2 separate regions of the Homo sapiens genome follow, and region 1 is linked to region 2. A link means that fine-mapping ties the variant in region 2 to the expression of a gene that starts in the linked region. Tissue or cell type: esophagus mucosa. Region 2 holds a variant in brackets; the other region holds the start of a gene. All regions are shown on one strand. Distances are from middle to middle.

The links. PIP is the estimated chance that this variant, and not a neighbour inherited with it, causes the effect.
Region 1: it holds the start of DACT2, and the variant in region 2 is fine-mapped to the expression of DACT2 in esophagus mucosa (GTEx, PIP above 0.99).

What each region holds. Positions count from the first base shown.
Region 1 is chr6:168,315,610-168,323,715 of GRCh38, reverse strand. DACT2 (dishevelled binding antagonist of beta catenin 2) reads left to right here and starts at 3,939. Exons shown (of 4, transcript NM_214462.5): 1 at 3,939-4,328. The coding sequence starts at 4,083. RefSeq lists a silencer at 1,022-1,190.
Region 2 is chr6:168,212,352-168,220,457 of GRCh38, reverse strand. No RefSeq gene overlaps it. Among named protein-coding and RNA genes, the nearest start is that of DACT2, 100 kb to the left of the region's middle. RefSeq lists an enhancer at 5,014-5,514. The variant C/T (reference allele first, on the strand shown) is at 3,969.

The sequences.
Region 1 (8,106 bases), 100 kb before region 2:
CAGCATTTCTTTTAAAGACAAAACAATTATGACAAGTGCAAGAACAGACAGATGCACTAGCCACATGGAGACTAAGACCCAGAACATTCCGGAAAACACACAGATATTTTACTCAGGACAAAGGTGGCGGCAACATGCAAGAGTTCAAAAAGGACAAGATTTTTCAATAAATATTGCACTGGAATATGTGCTTAAAAACAAGTAAATTGTGACACCTCCTCCAAATACAGCACATGAAAAGCCATTCTGGGTGGATTATAGATCTAGATAAGAAAGGCAAAATGATAAGGTTTCTAGAAGACAGCATTAGGTAATGTCTTCAATAACCTGGGTGAGTAAACATTTCTTCAAAAGGGCACAAAAAGATTAATAATAAATAAGACTATGTAAAAATTAAGACCTTCTGTTTACCAAAGGACACGATTCAGAGAGCTCACATACAGGGAGAAGACATAACTGATAAAGGGCTCACCTCCAGTCTGTCTCTCTCTCTGTCACTATCTTCATCTCTCTCTATCTTTAAAAGGCATCTAAGACAAACCCACAGCTGACGTCATACTTAACAGGAAAGACTGAATGTTTTCTTTGGCCCTTTCTGTTCAACATGGTGTTAGATGTTGTAGCCAGAACAACTTGGCAGGTAAAAGAAGTAAAAGGTACCCATCCTGGAAAGAAAGCAGTAAAACTGTCTCTATTTCCAGATGACATGAGCTTCTAGGTAGAAAGTACAAATAAATTCACATGCACACACACACACCCACACACACACACAACTATTAGAACTAATAAACAAGTTCAGCAGAGTTGTAGGAATCAATATACAAGAATCTTTTTTTTTCTTTTTGAGACAGGGTCTCACTCTGTTGTCTGGCTGGAGTTCAGTGGTGCAAACACAGCTCACTGTAACCATGACCTCCTGGGTTCAATGGATCCTCTAGCCTCAGCCTCCCTCCTGAGTAGCTGAAACTACAGGTGCATGCCACCATACCCTGGCTATTTTTGTATTTTTGGTAGAGGCAGGGTTTTGCCATGTTACCCAGGCTGCTCTGGAATGCCTCAGCTCAAATGATCCACGTGCCTCTGCCTCCCAAAGTGCTGGGATTACAGGTGTGTGCCACTATGCCTGGCCTTCCAATCAATATTTAATTTTTATACACTAACAATGAATGTTCTGAAAATAAAACTAGAAAACAATTCCATGTACAATTGTGTCAAAAATAATAAAATACTTAGAAATAAATTAAGCAAGTACAAGACTTCTATGCTGAAAACTACAAAGCACTGTCGAAAGAAATTAATGAAGACCTAAATAAGTGGAAAGACATCCTATGTTTATGGTTCAGAAGATTTAATCTTAAGGTAGCAATACCTGCAATAGGTAAACAAATTTAGTTGCAATTCCCATCCAAATCCCAGATGACTTCTTTGCTGAAATTGACAAGCTGATACTAAAATTCATATAGAAATCAAAAGACACGGGCCAGGAGTAGCAGCTCACACCTGTAATTTGGGAGGCCAGGCAGGCGGATCACCTGAGGTCAGGAGTTAGAGACCAGCCTGGCCAACATGGCCAAGCCCCATCTCTACTAAAAATACAAAAATTAGCCAGGCGTGGTGGCATGTACCTGTAATCACAGCTACTTGGGAGGCTGAGGCAGGAGAATTGCTTGAGCCCAGGAGATGGAGGTTGCAGTGAGCCAAGATCGCACCACTGCACTCCAGCCTGGGCAACAGAGTAAGGCCCTGTCTCAAAAAGGAGGAGGAAGAAGAAGAAGAAGAAGAAGAAGAAGGAGAAGGAGAAGGAGAAGGAGAAGGAGAAGGAGAAGGAGAAGGAGAAGGAGAAGGAGAAGGAGAGGAAGAGGAAGAGGAAGAGGAAGAGGAAGAAGAAGAAGAAGAAGAAGAAGAAGAAGAAGAAGAAAAAAGAATCAAAAGACACAGATCAGCCAAAACAATCTTGGAAAAGAAAAAATTGGAGGACTCACATTTCCTGACTTCAAAACTTATTACAAGGCTACAATGATTGAAACAGTGTGGTACTGGCATAAGAATAGACATATATTGCAACGCAACAGAACTGAGAAACCAGAAACTGATTTCTGGATCAACTGATTTTCAACAAGGGTCCCAAGACAATTCAACAGGGAAAGAATTGTTTTTTCAACAAATGGTACTAGGACAACTGGGTATGTAAAAGAAGGGGCCCCTACCTCACACCATATACAGAAATTAATGCAAAATAGAACAAAGGCTTAAATGTAAGTGCTAAGTCTACAGCAAAATCTTAGAAATCATAGCTGTAAACTTTGTCTTTGGATTAGACAATGCTCTGTTAGATCACCCAAAGCATAAGGAACAACAACAAAGTAGATACACTGGAATTCACCAAAATTACAAACATTTTTTGCTGCAAAGGACACTATCAAGAACATGAAAAAAACTCACAACATGGAAAAATTATTTGTCAATCATGTATTTCATAAGGGAAGTGCAAATCATGTCTGATAAGGGAATTGTATAATGAATACTCACATCTCAATAACGAAAAGACAACCTAAATTTTAAAATGGGCCAAGGATCTGAATAGACAGTTCTCCAAAGGAAGTATACAACAAGCACATGGAAAGATGCTCAACGTCCTTAGCCATCGGGGAAACACAAATCAAAACCACAGGGAGATACCACTTCACATCTGCTGGACTAAAGACAGCGGTTGGTGTGCACACTGAGGAAATGGAACCCTCATACCCCGCTGGCTGCTGTGATTCCACTTGGAAAGCAGCCTGGCAGCTCCTCACAAGATTAAGCACGGTAGTCACCTACGATCCAGCCATTCCTCTCTTAGGTATAATGAAAACATATTGCCACACAAAAACTCATACAGGAATGTCCTTGCAGCGTTATTCGTAATAGCTAAAAAATGGAACAACTCACATGTCATCAGCAGATGAATGGATAAACAAAACTTGGCACAGCCATGCAGTGGAGTATTATTCAGCCACACAAAGGAATACAGTTCTGACGCAATCTGCAGCACAGACGCACCTTGAAAACGCTCACCAAAAGGAGCCCCCACAGAGACCTCCTGGCGTGTGACCCCATTTCCATGAACTTCCAGAACCTGCGGGGTGGTGGTTCTATGTGTGGGGGTGCAGGAGAGGGAATGGGGGTAGCTACCGATGAGAACAGGGTTTCTTTTGGGGGTGGTGAACACAACTTCGTTAATATACTAAAAACGAACTGTACACCTTAAATTAGGTGAGTTTTATGGTATGTGAACTGCATCTTAAGCAATTATTTTAAAAATTTAAAAAGCAAGCTGAGCAGCCTGGCCAACATGGTGAAACCCCATCTGTACTAAAAATACAAAAATTAGCCAGGTATGGTGGTAGGCGCCTGTAGTCCCAGCTACTCGGGAGGCTGAGGCAGGAGAATCGCTTGAACCCGGGAGGCAGAGGTTGCAGTGAGAGGAGATCGCGCCACTGCACTCCAGCCTGGGCGACAGAGCGAGACACTGTCTCAAAAAAAAAAAAAAAAAAAAAAAAAAAAAAAAAAAAGCGAGGTGCGGTTTCCAAACTGCAGATACCCATTGGGAAACGTGGGTAACACGGTTTTGAAATCTCTACTGCGTCTGTAATGGTAACACGGTCCTTGCAATGTGATAATGTCCCAATAGTTTATCTTTATAAACATTTTAAAACATTAACAAGCCTTTCTCCGCCTTTGTTCCACTTGCGCCTCTTTGCCCCTCTCCCCCGGGCTCCTCCTCCCGGCTGGCCCTCCCCGCTGAAGTCACGGAGGCGCTCAGCTGGCCCCGGGGTCTGGGTGCGCCCGCCCTGCCCGCAGCCGGCGAGGGGCCCTGGGGGGTCGGCGGGGCGGGTCCGGGGGAGGCCGCGGTGACCTCGGGGCGCGTGCAGACCCCGCCCTCCGCGCCTGGCCACAGATTCCAGCCCACCTTGGCGACCTGCGGAGCCGGGGGCGGAGAGAGGAGGCGCAGGAGGACCCGCGACACAGCTCGGGATCCGCGCGCGCTGGGCCTCCGGCGCCGCTCGTGGGGTTCGGGAGGCCGGGACCCTGCCCGGGAGATGTGGACGCCGGGCGGACCCCCGGGGTCCGCGGGCTGGGACCGCCGTAGGTTGGGCGCGAGGTTGCGCGCGGCGTTCGCGGGGCTGCAGGAGCTGCAGGGGCTGCGAGCCACGCAGCAGGAGCGGGTACGGGGCGCCCTGGCCCTGCAGCCCCCGCCCGCGCCCGCCGCGCCCTGCGGCCCCCACGGCCTCCACGGCCCCGAGCAGCAGCTGGAGGCGGCGCTGGCCGCGCTGCAGGAGCAGCTGGTAAGGACCGGGCGCCGGGACTCGGGGCTGCGAGGTGTGCGGGCCACAGGCGCTGCTCCTTCGGCAGCGACTGTGTGTTAGTGGGACGGGGGTGTCTGATGGATGGAGGGGACGTCCTTTGGGATTTGAATGGAATGCAGTTCGGTCTCCAAGGAGGGGGACATGGAGGCCCCGCGCGCAGGTGCCTAGAGGTGAAGCGCACAGGTGAGGACCCTGAAAACTGCCCGGGGCTGCAGCCCGCGCTCCGCCGTGCGTGGATGTGCGCCTACCCACGCCAGCATCCCGAAGCTGGCAGATTTGGGAGAGACACCCTGTTCGTTACAGGGTTACAGCACTGATCTGACCTGCAGGCACTGACCGGCGTTCCCCTGGCGGAGGTCGGCTCGGGATCCTGGCATCACTCCCCCCCCGGGGACCAGGTCCCCCCTGCTGTCTTGGGTTAGGGGCAACAGTGTCCGCGTGGTAAAGCGCACCCCGACTTGTCCTCAGGAATGTGCTGACTTTTCTTAAGGTCGCGTCACTGTAATAAAGTATTGGGGGAAAGCATGTAACTGACAAAGGCCTCTTCAACTTTAAAATGTGACCTGACCTGTAAGGAGAGGCGTGTCCTCTGATCCAGAGGAGAGAGACTCTGATTTCCCTGCCACGGGCCCTCTTCAGCACTCCCTGGGCGCTCTGAACCCCTCCTTTCACACAATGAAAGGAACTCCACTCATTACCCCTCTGCTTATTATGTTATTGTATGATTTTGTTAAACTTACTGGAAACAACTCACAAGCGTTTTCGTAGTTGCTGTATTTTCTTAAAGACAAACTAAAAAGGCTGGAGAAAGATATGTTTACTTGTGTTACCTCTGTTACACTAAGTGAAATTTCTTTTACATTAGAAATTTAAGTCTGTCCTGTTAAAAGTTACTGCCTTTAAATGTTGCCCAGGTGAAGCTGCGGCATGACCGTCTGCCTCGCTCGCTCAGCCAGGTTGTTAACATAGCAAACCCTTCTGGATTAAAGAATCAGGAAGTCCAGTGTCTGGGACGCCTCCCAGGTTCCCCGTTATCTCCTGACCTTGTGGAAGACGGAGGTGGTAGACTGTGTGGGATTAACCTGGGCCCCCAACTCTGCCCCTGATGCCTCCTGAGAGGAAAGTAGCTGGTGTACAGACTTTGTTTACTCACCCAGTGACCAAATCCTGGCCGTCTGTTTAGGTCGTTTGTGTGTTTGCACCAGACACAATCGCAGCCTCTGTGTGACCTCAGCTCAGCACACGACAGCCACAGACGTGTTACACATATGTGATGGGAAGGGAGGTGCTGCTGAGATGTTGTGTGTTTGCACCAGACACAATCGCAGCTTCTGCGTGACCTCAGCTCAGCACACGACAGCCACAGACGTGTTACACACATGTGATGGGAAGGGAGGTGCTGCCGAGATGCTGTTGTGTGTTTGCACCAGACACAATCGCAGCTTCTGCGTGACCTCAGCTCAGCACACGACAGCCACAGACGTGTTACACACATGGGAAGGGAGGTGCTGCCGAGATGCTGTTGTGTGTTTGCACCAGACACAATCGCAGCTTCTGCGTGACCTCAGCTCAGCACACGACAGCCACAGACGTGTTACACACATGGGAAGGGAGGTGCTGCCGAGATGCTGTTGTGTGTTTGCACCAGACACAATCGCAGCTTCTGCGTGACCTCAGCTCAGCACACGACAGCCACAGACGTGTTACACACATGGGAAGGGAGGTGCTGCCGAGATGCTGTTGTGTGTTTGCACCACACACAATCGCAGCTTCTGCGTGACCTCAGCTCAGCACACGACAGCCACAGACGTGTTACACACATGGGAAGGGAGGTGCTGCCGAGATGCTGTTGTGTGTTTGCAGCTCAGCACACGACAGCCACAGACGTGTTACACACATGGGAAGGGAGGTGCTGCTGAGATGCTGTTGTGTGTTTGCACCAGACACAATCGCAGCTTCTGCGTGACCTCAGCTCAGCACACGACAGCCACAGACGTGTTACACACATGGGAAGGGAGGTGCTGCCGAGATGCTGTTGTGTGTTTGCACCAGACACAATCGCAGCTTCTGCGTGACCTCAGCTCAGCACACGACAGCCACAGACGTGTTACACACATGGGAAGGGAGGTGCTGCCGAGATGCTGTTGTGTGTTTGCACCAGACACAATCGCAGCTTCTGCGTGACCTCAGCTCAGCACACGACAGCCACAGACGTGTTACACACATGGGAAGGGAGGTGCTGCCGAGATGCTGTTGTGTGTTTGCACCAGACACAATCGCAGCTTCTGCGTGACCTCAGCTCAGCACACGACAGCCACAGACGTGTTACACACATGGGAAGGGAGGTGCTGCCGAGATGCTGTTGTGTGTTTGCACCAGACACAATCGCAGCTTCTGCGTGACCTCAGCTCAGCACACGACAGCCACAGACGTGTTACACACATGGGAAGGGAGGTGCTGCCGAGATGCTGTTGTGTGTTTGCACCAGACACAATCGCAGCTTCTGCGTGACCTCAGCTCAGCACACGACAGCCACAGACGTGTTACACACATGGGAAGGGAGGTGCTGCCGAGATGCTGTTGTGTGTTTGCACCAGACACAATCGCAGCTTCTGCGTGACCTCAGCTCAGCACACGACAGCCACAGACGTGTTACACACATGGGAAGGGAGGTGCTGCCGAGATGCTGTTGTGTGTTTGCACCAGACACAATCGCAGCTTCTGCGTGACCTCAGCTCAGCACACGACAGCCACAGACGTGTTACACACATGGGAAGGGAGGTGCTGCCGAGATGCTGTTGTGTGTTTGCACCAGACACAATCGCAGCTTCTGCGTGACCTCAGCTCAGCACACGACAGCCACAGACGTGTTACACACGTGATGGGAAGGGAGGTGCTGCTGAGATGCTGTTGTGTGTTTGCACCAGACACAATCGCAGCTTCTGCGTGCCCTCAGCTCAGCACACGACAGCCACAGACGTGTTACACACATGGGAAGGGAGGTGCTGCTGAGATGCTGTTGTGTGTTTGCACCAGACACAATCGCAGCTTCTGCGTGACCTCAGCTCAGCACACGACAGCCACAGACGTGTTACACACATGGGAAGGGAGGTGCTGCCGAGATGCTGGCTTCAACTGTTCTGTCAAGGGGGTGGGAGTGCAGGTGATGATTAACTTGGCTTAAGAAATATACAAATCAAACTTGCAAGCGCTCAGTCTCTAATTACAAGTAGCCTTTTGGAAGAGAAGATCAAACAGATTTTTGTTTATTTTATTATTATTTTTTAATGTGGGGACCAGAAGGAACACGCAGACTTTGTTTTGAAACTTTGTTCTCGGGACAGATTATGTGATCAAAAGAGAAGAATAATTGAATTTGTGTGACATCAGCCCAGGGCTTAACACTTTTACATTTTTCTTACAGGGAAAAACATTAGGAGTGATAGCAGTTCTATAGTGTTGAATACAATGAACAGCCTTGCTTGCTGGAACAGTTACACACTCCAGCAGCTCCCGGCTAACTCAGGGTTCCCTCCGCCCACCCTGGTGCTCACCTGTCCATTGGTCATCATTCAGGTGTGAAGGCAGGAAGAACATTTATCAGACCTTGAGCAGATTTAGCCTGCAGGAATTCTCAGGTGAGAACGATTGTTACCATTTGCAGGGATTTAAACAGTCAGGAAAATAGCAGCACTCATCACTTCAAGGCTTGTCGCAATGTGCTGCAGCGTTTTAATTACTGTGCCACAAGAGAGTG
Region 2 (8,106 bases):
CTCCAGGGAGCCCCAGGAGCTTCAGATGCTTCCTAGGAGGAGAGGCTGGGAGGAGGAGGTAGCAAAGCTCTTGAAAGTGATTGACAGTGGGGGCAACCCATCTCTACACCAAGTCACATTGATTCCACAAAGGCCTTAACATAAATTGAAAGAAAACACTAGAATGCAGACATCCTGTTTATTGAATATTATATTTCTTAGGATCTTGGATCATTTGTATTTTTTATCACACAGTGGACCATAACAACTATTTCCCCAGATGTGATATTGTTGATTTTTCTAATCTAAAAGCATTAGATCATAAATAATTGGTATGACTTTCCACAGAACGCCAGCTGTGCCGCTCCTGATATCTGGGTGTCTCTGAAAATCCAGGGTCCATGGGAACAAATGTCTTTACATTGGCTCAAAAACCCACAATGAAAAGCCAGAGCGCTTCAGCCCTCTGCGTTCATCCGATAACACGCCCAATGGGAACGGATGCAGAGACTGGGGAGAGGCAAAGGGGACTCCGCCCATTTCTGAAGGTCCCACCGGGCACACTCTGTGTTTTCTGTGGGCACCATGGCTCATGCTGTGGTCAGGGTACATTTTCTGAAATGTGTATGATGCACCCAGCATAGCGCTGGGCTCTGTGCAGAAGCTGTTTCATTTACTCTTCACAAAAGAGTGGCTGAGAGGCAGAGGCCAGAGGACCCACCAGGTTCACAGTTCAGGTGACTTCTGGTCTTGCCCACTGGAAGCGGAGATGGCTCACAGCATTCCTTGTACATAGACTTTCTCCCTGGCAGGCACACAGCTCTGTTCCATGTCACCTGGGTCCCTCTTGCCGTTGTCTTTCAAAGGGCAGTTGAGATGGGAAATTCTGGCTCTGAGCCCACCAATCACGGCCCCACCAAAATGAACATTTCCGGTTCCAGAAGCAGGAGGCCTCTGGGAAAGGGCGTGGGGTGAAGGGGGGACCCAATGGAGGGCCGAGCCCAGCAGTGGAAGGCTGCGATCCAAGGCTGTTTCCAGATTCCACCTCCAGGACTGACCAGGCAGAAAGACTCCAGGTCCCCAGACTGTATTTGGTGAAATTCCTAAAACCCAGGGGGAATTGTGTAAAGCAACTCTCACATTCACTTGTTTTTTTAAGCATTATATCAGAAGACATTCTTACAAGATGAATATGCTGAAATCATTTCCAGAAAAGTTTGATTTCCTTCTGCTAACCACTCCTCATCCCTAGAGAAAGTGAATATTTCTCTTAGTATGAAGGGCAAGCATGTTAATGCTGCCTCAGATAGGAGCTGGTTCAGGCCTCCCAATGCTTAGCATTGAAAAACTCAGGTTTAAGTTGAGTTTGGCATTTGAGTAAATCCTTGCCTATGCAAGATACTTCATGAACGTTACACTTACCAGTCCTTTTCCCAGGGGTAGGGTAAGAGAGATTAAAAAGTCTGCAGTAACGGTGTCTTATGAGCAAGCTAGTTGATTTATAAGCAGTAAGCTGCACACGCTGTTGTGCACCACCTATGCATCCTGTGCAGTGAGCTGGTGAAATCTGACGAATCAAGCTGGGGCAGGTGAGCGTTGTGCTACCATCGTGGTGCTTGGAAAACACCCCAGAATAGAAACAGAAATTTCCGCAGTTTCTAAAACAATATCACGTTGCATAGATTCCAGACTCATGCTTTTGTTTTTCTAGTGAGAAAGGGAAGCATGAAGGTTGCTTTCTTCGTTCTCTGCACAGGTGATGAACAAGGCACGTCTTCGCCGTGGATTCTGCCTGCACAGAAGACCTGAGATGCGCGATGTCAGGCCCGTCCCTAACAGGAGGAAATCTCTCCATGTCGCCTTCATTTAGGATTTTTTTAAATTATAGTAAGTATAATAAAAAGAAAAACAGCTGATTTGACTCCATCCTCTTCCAAATGAACTATTTCTGTATATCTTTTGCTTTGGTGCTTAATCGGAAGTGAAACTGTTCACGGCATTGAAAGGAAAACTAAACTACCCCCCAGGGAAGGTGCCCTCCAGCGGGCACTTGCCGGTCACAGGGTGGGTCAATTCCACTTTCCCTGAAGAAGGTGGTACTTTTGTTTAGAATCATAAGAGACAAAGGACTCTCAACTGGATTTGCATGACGTCTCATGGCAGGGTTCCCAGACTTTCTAAGGAGCTGTTTGATGTCAGAATACATTGTGCTGGCTGCTCACGGGTAGCACAGGTGTTCTTACTGTCCACTAATTGAAATGAACAACCAAAAAAAATGACAAAAAGCCACTGTGAAATCAAGAGGACTCTGAAAACACATCTCTACTTTGCCAATCTCATGTGTATCTACAGATATTGACATCACAGGGTTAAGTGTCTGAATGAGGTGTTGATTCTTCTGCAGGTTGTGATGTGCACTTGGGTCCCGGGACTCTTGGGAACCCTGGCTCCAGGCACCACTAGCTCAGGGAGAGGCCTGTATTATAAATATCTTACATCAGATGTTTTGCACGACTTATTTAGTTGTGTATTTTATAAAAGTAAATCTTTCCGAGGCTGAGAATATTTATAGGTATTATACTGTACTTCCTAAATAGGCTGATTTCAGAAGAATAAAAATTAAAAAGAGAAGATACGAAGGTCACTAAAACAGGTGATGGGAAAGGCAGCCTGAGGTCCTCAAAGACCCCATCCCTAGGAGACATTTGTAGGTGCCTGGAGCCACTCCGGACCCTCTTCCCCCTACCTCGGGGCCACAGCAGTTCTCTGCCTTGCTCCATTGTGGCTTGGGGATGTATGAATGAAGGAGGCCACGCGAAGCTGCTGACGAAGGGGTCTGGGGAGCCCGGGCATCCCACACCCCACAGTTACCCCAGCAGCCTGGCATTTTAAAGCTCTTCCAGCCCACTCCCAGGCACCCCTTTTTCATCAGGACTTCCCCCCAGTTTCCCAAACAAGCGCGAGCGACAGCCTTTATCCACCGAGCTTCCCGGGCACATGCGCTCCTGTTCCCACCAGCAGGAGACCTGGAAGGGAAGCGGCCGTGTCCTGCCCGTGACGCGCGGCCTGGCTCGCCCTGTGCCCTCCCTCACCCTCCTCTTCTGCTGAACCTATGAAAAGTCCCCCGCCCCCATCACCCACCCAAATCCCAGGCTCCACATGAACTCTGTCCACCCTCGACAGGGCAGGTGTGATTTCTGTCCTGTGCCGCCTCTGGAAAGCGAGGGTCATCCAGTGAGGGTTCCTGACCCTTCCCATCCAAAGGCCGATCCACATGCAACCAAACAACTCACTTCGGAGACTAAGCGGAGACGCAGACACACTGGGAGGAGGCCAGGTGGGCACTCCATGCTGCCCTGAGTTCACCTTCAATTCTATCGGGAAGAGATTCGGTGCAGACATGCTAGAAAATTGTCCTAGTCGATCATGATAAGCCTCCACCAAAGTGAGCACAGTGACGAGGAAGGGGCATTCAGTGCCTCTCCACCTCATCACACAGGCAAGCTTGCAGCAGGGTGCTTCTTGCTGCTAATTGTTCTACCCACTGTCTACAGGAAAAACAGCGGCCTCTTGGAATGAAAACCACATTCTCCCGCCCATCGCAGTAAGTGCGGCCATGTGTGTAATTTCCGGACAAAGGATGGGAAAGAAATGGGGGCACGGCTCCGGGAGCCCTGCCCGAGGCTGCGTCCTGGCCCACAAATTCCCAGAGCAGTCTGGGCTCTGTGACCAGCCCCGAAGTCTCTGCACCTGACCTTCAAGAGAGACAGAAATAAACTTCTGCCCTGTTTAAACTCCTGACATTTTGAATATCTGTAACGAGAGCCAAACCTAATTTTTAATGAATGCAAACTCCATCTGATGGTGAGATGAGTAAAAAGGAAAATTTATTTATTCAACAAATATTTATGTATCAGGCACCTGAAATATTGCTCTTTAGTGTAGTTATACACAGTGATAATGTAAACAGACAAAAGTCCCTGTCCTCA[C/T]GATTCTCATGTTCTGGAAGGAAAGAAAGATGATAGGCAAATGAAAGCAGAGAGTTGCAAATGATGGGGCTGCTGTGAGGAAAGACAGCAGGGCGAGGTGTTTGGGGTCTGGACGCAGACAGCCCTGAGCCGACAAGAGGTTCCCATGCTGCTCCGAAAGAAGCGAGGTCCCTCAGTGACCACCTGGGGTCAGGAATTCCTGAAGAATTCCCATTTACTCTGTTACAAATTAGGTAGTTCATTTAAACTGTGCTTGAAGTCACATGTGTTATTAGTGAAAAAATGTGATCAAAGAGAAAAGACTGGAGGTGATTAATACAATATGCTAATATGATATCTAAGATGCAGAGCATGAAAGGAGAGAGCTTTGTTTCTCTCAAAAACTAAGGTGAATGCTTTGGAAAGATAGAAACTCTGTCTGCTTTACAAAAATTGCTGTTGACTTAGGAGCAGATGGAGAAATCATAAAAGTCCCAAAGCGTGTTTGTCTCTGCAGGGTTGTGAAGTCCTCACCCTACTCTGCGGAAATGAGCAGAAAATTGTCGGAGTCATTCGGCATTTGTTCATGCAAGAAAGACACAAACCCCAGTGAGTTCCTGCCGGAGAAAAAGCCTGAGTCCCCCAAAAAATATTGTGTCTAAGTGGCCATGGAAATATTTAGTTAGTATTGTGTCTAAGTGGCCATGGAAATATTTAGTTTCTGTCGGTATTTCTCTTAATGATTTCCTATTTAATCGACAATGAGCCGTTTGGAAGATACCGAAAGGGAGGGCCCTACGGTGTCAGATGTAGCTCTGTCCAGTGGGCTTCCTGTTCGTGATGGGGTGGGGCTGTACCTTCTCCGATACGGGCAGGTGGGGTGCGACAGTGGCAGGTGGTTGGTGGGGGTCTCACCCCACACAGGGTGTCATGGAAGCTTCCAGAGGAGAGAGAGGGAGCGGGAGCTGCGTCATGAATGACACTGCGGTTGTCCACAGTAGCATGTACACAGAAGGAGAACATGAAAGAACTCGGAATCTTCTTAGGACGCTCATGTGTTCTGTGAAATGGAGCCCAGGGCTTCCCTGGAGGGGCAGGAATGGTGAGTGACTGGGCTGGGGAGGGGAACGGGTAGATGGGGTCAGATCAGCAAGGCCCTCGCCTGCCCATGCATCCGACCTTCCCTGCCACGCCCAGAGGATGTTTGGCAAGGTGGAGGACTGCTCACCTCTGAGTTTGGCGAGGTCCCTCTGGCAGGGGTGGAGAAAGGGTCGCCAGGCGGCTCGTGCAGGGCAGGTGCTCTCCAGGGAAGGTCATTTGGTCGAACTTGTGCTTGGGAGTTTTTGGTGCACAAGTGATAACTGGAGCCATGGAAATGAGAGGGAGAGGGAGGGGTCAGGTGCAGGGAGAGGGAGGGGTCAGGTGCAGGAACAGAGCCCAAGGAACACCTGCATTGAAGGGACAGAGGCCCCACAGACAGGAGGAGAAAACCCAGTTCCACCAAGGTCACGAAGCCTAGGAAGCCGGGATTTCCATGGTCAGTAGTATTGAGTGCTGCAGAGATGCTGAGTACGGATGTGGTTAAGCGGCTGGGGAAGGGTGAAAGGCACCCCCAGGGACCTCGGTGAGAGCAGTGTCAATGGGAGGCAGTGCAGAGACACAGGGCCCAGCGGCTTCCAGGGCAGGTGCCGGGAAAGGGTCGCCCGGCAGAGTGGCTGCACAGAGCTGCACCCGTGCACATTGCAAACGTGGACAAGAGTGTGAACAGCTCCCCTGGGGCCTGGCCACGTGCGTGTCTGCCACGGCGCTGTCCTGAGTAGACTCGCTGTGAAGGGAAGGCAAGAATTAGAGAAAGAAGGGGACCCAGTGCTGAGGGATAATTTTCTAACCACATATGAGATGTGACTATTTCTACGCACCCAAGGAAAGGCCGGTCACAGAAGCAAACGTGGAAACTGAGGGAGGAATCGCTGGTGGAGAGCGAGCCCCAGGAGGCCTGAGACAGCGCTCAGGCAGAAACGTCCGTAAGTCAACGAGCATCAATCAAACCTGCGAGTGACCCATGGAGGCATAAGGCCACATCTGCTGACCACATCAGACCAATACCCCTTTCACTCTCATTTGAGCTTGCTGAGATGAGGCTGGACAAGAACATCTACATGGAAAAGTGTTAGAAAGAGGAGAATTTTAAATCTTATGCATGACTGGCTATTAGAAAGTATAGCCTTGGGTTTTAGATCTATTTTCAAAACCTGACCTGCATGACTCCTTATTTCTTTTTTGTGACTACAGCGTCAGAAATGTTGGGAAATTGCTTATGAAGTGATGTAAGTGCAGTGACGGACGTTGAGTCAAACTGACATCATGATGTAAATGCCATGGCTGGTTCCAGGCAGGGGCACTCATCCTTTTTCTCCAGCTTCTATCGAATGGAGTAAGTAGTGCAAAATACGTCACAGGTTGTACTTGGAGACTTTGCCGCGTGCCTTTCCTTTTTGTTTTGTTCTTTTTTTTGTGAGACGGAGTCTCGCTCTGTCGCCCAGGCTGGAGTGCAGTGGCTCGATCTCGGCTCACTGCAAGCTCCGCCTCCAGGGTTCAAGCCATTCTCCTGCCACAGCCTCCAGAGTAGCTGGGACTGCAGGCGCCCGCCACCACGGCTGGCTAATTTTTTGTGTATTTTTAGTAGAGATGGGGTTTCACCGTGTTAGCCAGGATAGTCTCAATCTCCTGACCTCGTGATCCGCCCGCCTCGGCCTCCCAAAGTGCTAGGATTACAGGCATGAGCCACCGTGCCCAGCCCCTATTTTTTTTTTTAACATTAATGTGAAGTGAAGACACAACGCGGCTGTGAGAGGGGGCAGAAGTCACAGCTCAAATGATGGGCATCCCATTTTCCAAACCACTGGGGTGGGAAGTCAACGAGGCAGCTCAGCAGGTGCCTCGGGGAGAAAGAACCGGCTGGCGTGGCTCCGTCGGGGCTCTTCAGGCATTTGGACTTTGCAGTGGCATCTCCCATGGGGGAAGCCAACGCGATCCCACTCACAATGGGCCTGAGGGGGTGCTGCCCATCCGGATTCACCTGTCCTCCAGGGTCCACGAGGGGCTCTCAGAGCTTTCATCCTCAGATCCCCGGATCCGTGCTGCCCATCACGGATTCACCTGTCCTCCAGGGCCCACGAGGGGCTCTCAGAGCTTTCATCCTCAGATCCCCGGATCCGTGCTGCCCATCACGGATTCATCTGTCCTCCAGGGCCCACGAGGGGCTCTCAGAGATTTCATCCTCAGATCCCCGGATCCAGGCGGTGGCTCTGTCTGGGGAGGGGCTGACTGCAGAGAGAACCCCCTCGCCATGGAGGTTGAGAGACAAAATGACTGGTGAAATTGCCGGAACATGAACACTCAGTAGGCGCTCGGCATTGTGCGTACTGCTGTATCTCAGCTAAATGTTGTTTCTTTTTTCGGAAGCTCCACCCTATCTCAGCCTCCTGCTCCAACTCACCACATTGGCCTGTCAATTTCATCTCTGAAACTGAAAATTTCTCAAATCCGCTCATTTTTCTCTGTTTAAGCTGCAGCCTCCAAGATCCGGGCCCTCACCCAGCCCCAGGCTGATCCTCGGTCCCCCTGGGCATGAGGACCCACATCAGGTCCCCGGCCACCCCAGAACCACAAGGAAACCTCCAGAACCCCAGCAGGAGGGTGGCATTTACACCTTCAGGATGAAGTCCGGAGAAGCCTCCCTGACCCTCCAGATGCCCACGCAAGTGTAGACCCCGCCCCCACCCCACACAAGTGTAGACCCCGCCCCTGCCCCACGCAAGTGTAGACACCACACAAGTGTAGACGCCGCCCCTGCCCCACGCAAGCGTAGACCCCGCCCCCGCCCCACACAAGTGTAGACCCCGCCCCTGCCCCACGCAAGTGTGGACCCTCCTGCTCCCTGCCCCCTGCCCCCCACGCACGCTGTGCTACGTTCCAAACTGGGGATCTCCAGACGTTCCAAACTACGTCTCCAGACTGGGGATCCTGCAGCGCCTCTGCCCCTCTCACGCCTTCCGGCCCTGCCTGCTGCCCCGCTGCCCCCCTGGCTAGCCAGTGAGCACCAGTGTCCTCTGTCTGTTGTTCTGTATTCTCGATGGGATAGGCACCAACAAAACGC